2 linked regions of the Homo sapiens genome follow. Changing the gene in region 2 together with the main gene of any one other region gives a genetic interaction. Each region holds a gene or a part of one and is shown on either strand. Other genes may lie near its edges.

Region 1 (3,500 bases), on a different chromosome or scaffold from region 2:
ATATTAAGTATGCTGATAATCTCACTCATTCCAGAGTCTCTCTTCTCCCAGTGGGTATGTGTGTCCCCAACCCAATCTATCAACAGGGGTGCAGCTCCTAGGGATTGAGTGTATATGAACTCATAGCAACAAAACTTACTGTCTTTTACCAAAATACCACTGAAAGAAGAAACAATCAAAGATGAAAACATAATGGGAGGAAAAACAAGATTATTAAAATGTGAGAAAGAAAAAGGCCTGACTTGTGGCTGAAAAGCTAGAGCGGCAATTAGAAGATGGCAAAGGTCTTGAGAGGCCTTCAACTTCCACTTTCAGTCTTTTAGAACGTTCCTATGGCATGGAAAGACGCTCAGCCTAGCTGAATGATGCAGAAAGAAAAGACTCAGCTAACAGACAGTGCCAAGACTCCAAATATGGGAGTAAGGATGTTTTAGACCACCAGCCACAGTAAAGACATCAAATGACTACAGCTGGATGAGTTAAGCCCGAGCGAGATCAGCAGATTTGCCCAAAAAACACAGCCCAAATTACAAAAGTTTTTGTAATAATTCTTACTTCAAGAAACTATGAAAACACACAACCATACCACGACTGTGCAGCACTGAAATAACCCACTATGTTCTGGGAAAATTAATACAAGATATTCAACTCAACACATCTGAATTAAGCTCTTAAACTTCAAAGACAAAGAAAATACTTCAAGAACTGAGAGAGAGTGAATCAAGGAGTGATGTCAGTGAAAATGGCAGAGAAAAGAACTCCAGAAGTCCATTACTCCACAAAAGCAATTTTAAAAACCTGCCAAAGCCTGTCAGAATCAACTTTTTCAGAACATTGTAAACTAGCTAAAAGCTTGCAGCAACTTATTCAAAACAAGTGAAACGCAGTAAGAACAGTGAGCTTTCTGGCATTTTAACTTACCCTGTTTATCCCCTGCTCCTCACTCAGTAGCAGCCTTGAAAATAACAGTTCATATTTAAGGCATAGGTCCAGGTGGGAGCAGAATAAACCTCATTTACAAACTATCTTAAGCCGATCTGACCCTCTAAAATGACCTGATCAAAAGGCTTGTCCTGGCCAGGCACAGTGGCTCATGCCTGTAATCCCAACACTTGGGGAGGCCGAGGTGGGTGGATCACCTGAGGTCAGGAGTTCAAGACCAGCCTGACCAACATGGTGAAACCCTGTCTGTACTAAAAATACAAAAATTAGTAGGGTGTGGTGGCAGGCGCCTGTAATCCCAGCTACTTGGGAGGCTGAGGCAGGAGAATCGCTTGAACCCGGGATGCAGAGGTTGCAGTGGGCTGAGATCACACCATTGCACTCCAGACTGGGCAACAGTGCGAGACTCCATCTCAAAAAAAAAAAAAAAAAAAGAGGCTTGTCTTTATTTCACCTTTGTAACTCTAACTCACCTTGTGCTAAAGCTACTCCTGAGTAGCGTTTGCTGAAAACACTTACAGGAAAATGCTTTAGTCTCTGTTGCCTGAAGCAATGAAAGCAACTGGTGCAAACAGACTACCCAAGAAGTTTGGAAGAAGAGGTTAGGGAGTGAGATGTTTCTGGGGAATAGGACTCTGAAAAGGTCCAACATATACCTGGGAATCTAAAAAGACACACCCATGACCAGGGCAGTACATATGCTTAGGAAAGAGCTGAGAAGGCCCCTAAGCTCTACATGTGCCCTAACTTTGCATTTTGCACAAGCAGATAGCGAAGGCTGAAGCAACGTTGTAAACTTCTTGGTTGAGTATTGCAGGTGTGCCCCAACACAAATACAGAACACTCTGCAGATTTTTTGTTTTTGGTATACAGAATTTAAGGAAATCTCTGTCCAATCATTAGCTGACCACTAAAACTAATGGGACAGAAATTGTACAGCCATGCATGACAAACAATACCAACTTTAAAAAATTATATAAGAAAAATCACTAGGGCCGGGCATGGTGCCTCACACCTGTAATCCCAGCCACCTGAGGTCAGGAGTTCGAGACCAGCCTGGCCAACATGATGAAACCCCATCTCTAATAAAAATACAAAAAGCCAGGCACAGTGGCAGGTGCCTGTAGTCCCAGATACTTGGAAGGCTGAGGCAGGAGACTCACTTGAAGCCAGGAGGTGGAGGCTGCAGTGAGCCAAGATCACGCCACTGCACTCCAGCCTGGGCAACAAGAGCAAAGCTCCGTCTCAAAAAAAAAAAAAAACAAACACCACTAAAAAAAACAAACAACTACATCAAGCGGTAACAAACACTGGCAAGAGGGGAAAATCTGACTTTCTAGAGTTGCCACATATTGCCACAATATGTCCAGTTTTCAACAAAAAATTACAAAGCATGTAAGGAAACAAAGTATGGCCCTTATAAAGGAAAAACAGCAACCAAAACTGTCCCTGAGAAACATAAAGAAAGAAGAATAAAGAAAAATGAACAGAGTCTAAGAACTGTGGCACATCAAGTATACCAACAATAAACATAATGAGTCCAAGAGGGAGAGGAGAGTTAGATATAAAAAAAAAAATCTGAAGAAATTGTGGCCAAAAACTTCCCAAGTGTGATTAAAAACATTAATTTACATATCCAAGAAGCTCAACGAACTCCGAACAGAATGAAAAAAGAAATCCACACCAAGATACACCATAGTCAAACTGTGGTCAACAGAGAAACATAAAAGCAGCAAGAGAGCAGCAACGTCTCACATAAAAGAGATCCTCAGTAAGATTAACAGCTGATTTCTCATCAGAAACCACAAAGGCTAGAAGGCAGTAGTGGCATAATCAAAGTGCTGAAAGACAAAAGCTAATAAGAATTCTATATCCAGCAAAACTACCTGTCCAAAAAGTGGAAGAGAAATTAAGGCACTTAAACTGATAGGAATAGATACTACACTTGATCTTAGCCAAAAGGCTAAGAAGCGATTTTTTTTTTTTTTTGAGACAGTCTTGCTCTGTCACCCAGGCTGGAGAGCAGTCATGCAATCAGATCACGACTCACTGCAGCCTTGATCTCCAATGGCTCAGACTATCCTCCCACCTAAAGCCTCCCCAATAGCTGGCATTACAGGTGCACACCACAACGCCCAACTAATTTTTAAAATATTTTTAGTAGAGATGGGGTTTCACCATGTTGGCCAGGCTGGTCTCAAACTCCTGGCCTCAAGTGATCTACCCACCTCAGCCTCCTAAAGTGCTGGAATTACAGGTGTCAGCCATGACACCTGGCTAAGGCACTTTAGATTCAAAGACACAAATAGGTTAAAAGGAAAAGGAAAAAAAAAATAGACCATGGAAACAATAACCAAAAGAGAGCTGGTAGCTGGGTATGGTGGTACATGCCTGCAGTCCCACCTACTTGGGAGGCCAAGGCAGGAGGGTCACTTGAGCCCAGGAATTTGAGGCTGCATTGCACTATGATCGTGCCTTTAAGTAGCCACTACAGTCTAGCCTAGGCAACATAGTGAGACTCCATCTAAAAAAAGGAAAATACACAAGATAGCTGGTGA
Region 2 (3,961 bases):
TGTGTGTGTGTGTGTGTATGGTGGTTTTCTTATAACCACCATATTCTACAAACGAGTCAAGATATCCCCATTATTTCATATCAGGAAACTTCTGTGATCAGGTTGGAAACAACTGAAAGATGTGCAAAACAGCATAACCTGCTGATTTAAAAAACAGAATCGTTTTAAAAAGTTCAACTTAAGCTAAATAATCAGGGTGATGATAACAATAACCACATTCAACAATTCATATATAAGTACTATATGTTAAGAATTAGTCCATCATCATCACCATCAAAGGTAACAAAAACATTACACATTTTGGCCAGATAATTGGGACATCAAAAAGTAATTACTATTGGAGTTACACAATCTGTAGCCATAGTTATCAGCCCAGCTAGGCTCACTGCTTATTTGTTTTGTGTGTGTGTGTTTATTATTTTTAGTCAAGAGATAATTCAAATATGATAAAATTCACCATTTTAAAACGTACAATTCAGTGGCTTTATTATATTCACAATGTTGCACAACCATCACCACTAAGTCCACAACGTTTTCATTACCCTAAAAGAACCTGTATCCATTAGGAATCATTCCCCATTCCTTCCTTGTCCCAGTCCCTGGCAACCACTAATCTACTTTCTATCTCTATTCAGAGCCTGTTGCATAGCAAATATTTTCTATCCCGCTTTAGAATGGCTAAATGAAATTTTGAGATCATATAACCTATCTATTCATATAAGTTTTAGCTATGCTTACTATGCACCTATTATCATTCTGTGCATCCCACTTAATACAGTTTGTGCATTCCCCCATGTCACTAGCTATGCCTCTACAGTATCGCTTTCAATGGCTGAAGGAATTCCATCAAATAGATATTGCATAGTGCATCTAACTAATCCGGTATAGTTGGAATTTACATTTGAATACTGAGTTTTAAAAAATCTTGGAACCAAGTTTAAACATTTGTGTTTTGCATTTCAAGAAGTGATTTCAAAAAGAAGCCACAGGTATTAAATCCTTTCTTTGCATCCGTATATTTAGAGCCTCACATGGAGGTGAGACAGTGGGACAGAGGAAAGCTGAAAGCCTCTGTGTCTATCACCATACCCTGTGTGTAGAGCAATTAGGAGGCTAGCCCTTTTTTATGATAAGGAATTTGGTAGCCCATATGGTGGCAGTCCCTACATAAACTTTCACTGCTTAGAAGTATTTCCCAGAGATTGTATTTTAAAAGTCCCAGAATAGCTGTGTTAAAGACAAAAGTAAAGTAAGATCAAAAGGGAACTTACGTTTATTTGGCATTGTTTGTGTGGGCAGCACCTTATCCACTCACAGCTAGTCTTCGAAGCATTAAACTTTATTTCAACAAAGTGTAACATTAACATCCCAGCCTGACTTGCTTCTGACTTCTAGCACCAAAAATAGAGCCTTTTCTATGACTTAGGTGCAGAATCTACCCGTATAGGAATTAGCATTTGTATGAAAAGAGCTGAAACCCAGCTTCTGAATCAGCCAGGATTTTATTATTTTATTTTTACTACAGAAGCAGAGACTATCCTAATAAATCCTCCTTTCTTCTCCTAGCACACTTAAAAACCCATCTTTGAGCTCCACTGACTCCATTAGGTTTGAACTTTGGTATTAAGTACACAGGGAGGAAAAGAGTAGGTGTGGGGGTGACGAGAAGGAGAACAGAGAGAAGCACAGGAGAACAGAAAGGAAGGGAGGCAGCTTGATGCTACTGCTGCGGTTATTGCTTCACTCAAAAACAATGAAGCAAAAGCAGACTATGTCAAGAAGCAAAGGTGTGTCAAAGACACCCCAGGCTTAACATGGGGCTGCACAAACCCACAGGAAGCTCACATGCTATTTCCTAGACACTCTCTCACATGAACCACTTTGACTTATGTTTCCGGACTCCTTGATTTAGTTTCTGTTTTAGCGTTTGCACAATAATAATTTTACTACTAAAAGTAAATGTCTTGTAAACCAATGGGAAACATATTGTTTGGCAGAGTTTATAATGTCAGGATTTACGGCTCTAACACTGAGGGTCTCTCTGACCTCGAAGATAACATAATGAAACAGCAATGTGCTGCATATGACTCGTTGTGATTTTTTATTAGTTCTCATAATCGCCTCTTATTAATTTGTATGCACATAATAAGCACTCACCTTCACAGTCTGTCCGGCTTCGGGGCCATCCTAGAAGTAGGAAAAAACCAACAGAGGTGAGAATAGATAGATGGTATCTCCTGCTTATTCAGAAATATCACCCATTAATAATTTAGATGCAATTTCATTGTGTGTTAATTTATAGTATTCTCATGGGGACCATTGGCTTCAAATGTGCGGGATTAGACAGTTCTCCATTTCCGCCTGAGAGTAAGTGCGAAGTTATGTATAAAAATGATATAAATTATCCAGCAAGCCAACTCCTTGCTACTTTTCATGCTCTTTGCTCTAGGCTATGGTTTTAATTGCATTAAAGGAAGGCTGAAAATGTTTGGGGAGGTGAAGTATCACACCTTCTGGTTATGTTTAGAGGTGGTTTAATTAATGTCTGATTACTTTAAGCTTCTACTCAGGAAATCTGCTATAAACATAAGCCATTAAGGAAGAATATGGGGTATTTCATATGGGAAGAGTCCTCTGGCTATTCTGACCTTGTGGGAGACAAATGGTAGTGTTCATTGTAGCTGGACCCTTTTCCCAAACTGGTTCCCTTTCTCTGTTTCTGAAGCTTAGTTGGAAATGGGCAAACTCACCAAGTCACCAGCCATAATATAAAGCAAAAGCAGATACTCAGCTGGTTGAGATGGCCAAACAAAGCAATGGCTCCACAATCAGAAATTCCAAAATAGAATTTCACCTCTGCAACTTTAGCCAGGTTTGTCTACCTCTATGAGCCTGACTAACGGGGTGAGAACTCCCGCCGTAAGGATTAAGCATAACTGTGTATATCAGGGATTTTCAAACTTAGAGTCACAATCCATTAGTGGGTCATGAAGTCAACTTAATGGGTTGCAATCAGCATTACAAACAATGTAAATCAGGTGTTTTTTTTGTTGTTTTTTTTTTTTTTTTTTTTGAGAAAGGGTCTTACTCAGTTGTCCAGGCCAGAGTATGGTGGCATGATGGCGGCTCACTGCACCCTTGACCTCCTGGACTCAAGTGATTCTCCTGCCTCAGCCTCCTGAGTAACTGGGACTACAGGCATGCACCATCATGCCTGGCTAATTTTTGTATTTTTCTTAGGGACAGGGTTTTGCCATGTTGCCCAAGCTGATCTCAAACTCCTGAGCTCAAGAGAGCTGCCGGTCTTAGCCTCCCAAAGTGCTGGGATTACAGGTGTGAGCCACCACACCCAGCCAGAAATCAGATCTTAATAGAATAAAAACTATTAGACTGCACAGAATGAGTAAACATTGTTTTGTGAAACTCTGGTTTCCTTTATCAATATAGGCATATGCATATATTTCATATATGTGTGTCAGGGGAGACAGGCATGATTTTGAAATAAATATGTATCTTACTGTAGGTTACAGTAAAAAATAGTTTGACCACATTGCATATACGAAAGTACTCTAGGTGCTAACACAAGTCAGCTCTTACATTTATGGAATTAACTTTCTAGTGAAAAATGTTCCATAACCAGCAATGGCCATTTCCTATAAATGTGATTTTTATTCTTGTATCTCACTAAACATTAACAGAGGTTTTCATTCACTGCCTTCATTTAGTCTCTCCAGAAACACGGTTTGCAACATAAGCTTGATAAACCCACTCTGAACTGAACTACCTGCCTGAAGGGGACTCAAATGGTTTGACATACAACACATACACACAAAGCATTTGGGGGAAGTTTAGCTACTCTTAACACAGACATGGCAGCAAAAAAAGAAAGAAAAAAATCTGTTTGAGAAGAAGATGAGCACTTTTAGTCAGAGCCTTCATAACCTGAAAACACTGGCTTTCT

What was found.
Region 1: changes in FHIT (region 2) and CHEK1 are lethal when combined (synthetic lethality), as found in Homo sapiens cells (one large-scale study listed by BioGRID).

Annotation. Positions count from the first base shown.
Region 1 is NC_000011.10:125,649,163-125,652,662, reverse strand, and holds part of CHEK1 (serine/threonine-protein kinase Chk1), read right to left. Parts: intron 1-3,500. UniProt on the Homo sapiens protein: Serine/threonine-protein kinase which is required for checkpoint-mediated cell cycle arrest and activation of DNA repair in response to the presence of DNA damage or unreplicated DNA.
Region 2 is NC_000003.12:60,009,214-60,013,174, forward strand, and holds part of FHIT (bis(5'-adenosyl)-triphosphatase), read right to left. Parts: intron 2,188-3,961; coding exon 2,158-2,187; intron 1-2,157. UniProt on the Homo sapiens protein: Possesses dinucleoside triphosphate hydrolase activity. Cleaves P(1)-P(3)-bis(5'-adenosyl) triphosphate (Ap3A) to yield AMP and ADP. Can also hydrolyze P(1)-P(4)-bis(5'-adenosyl) tetraphosphate (Ap4A), but has extremely low activity with ATP.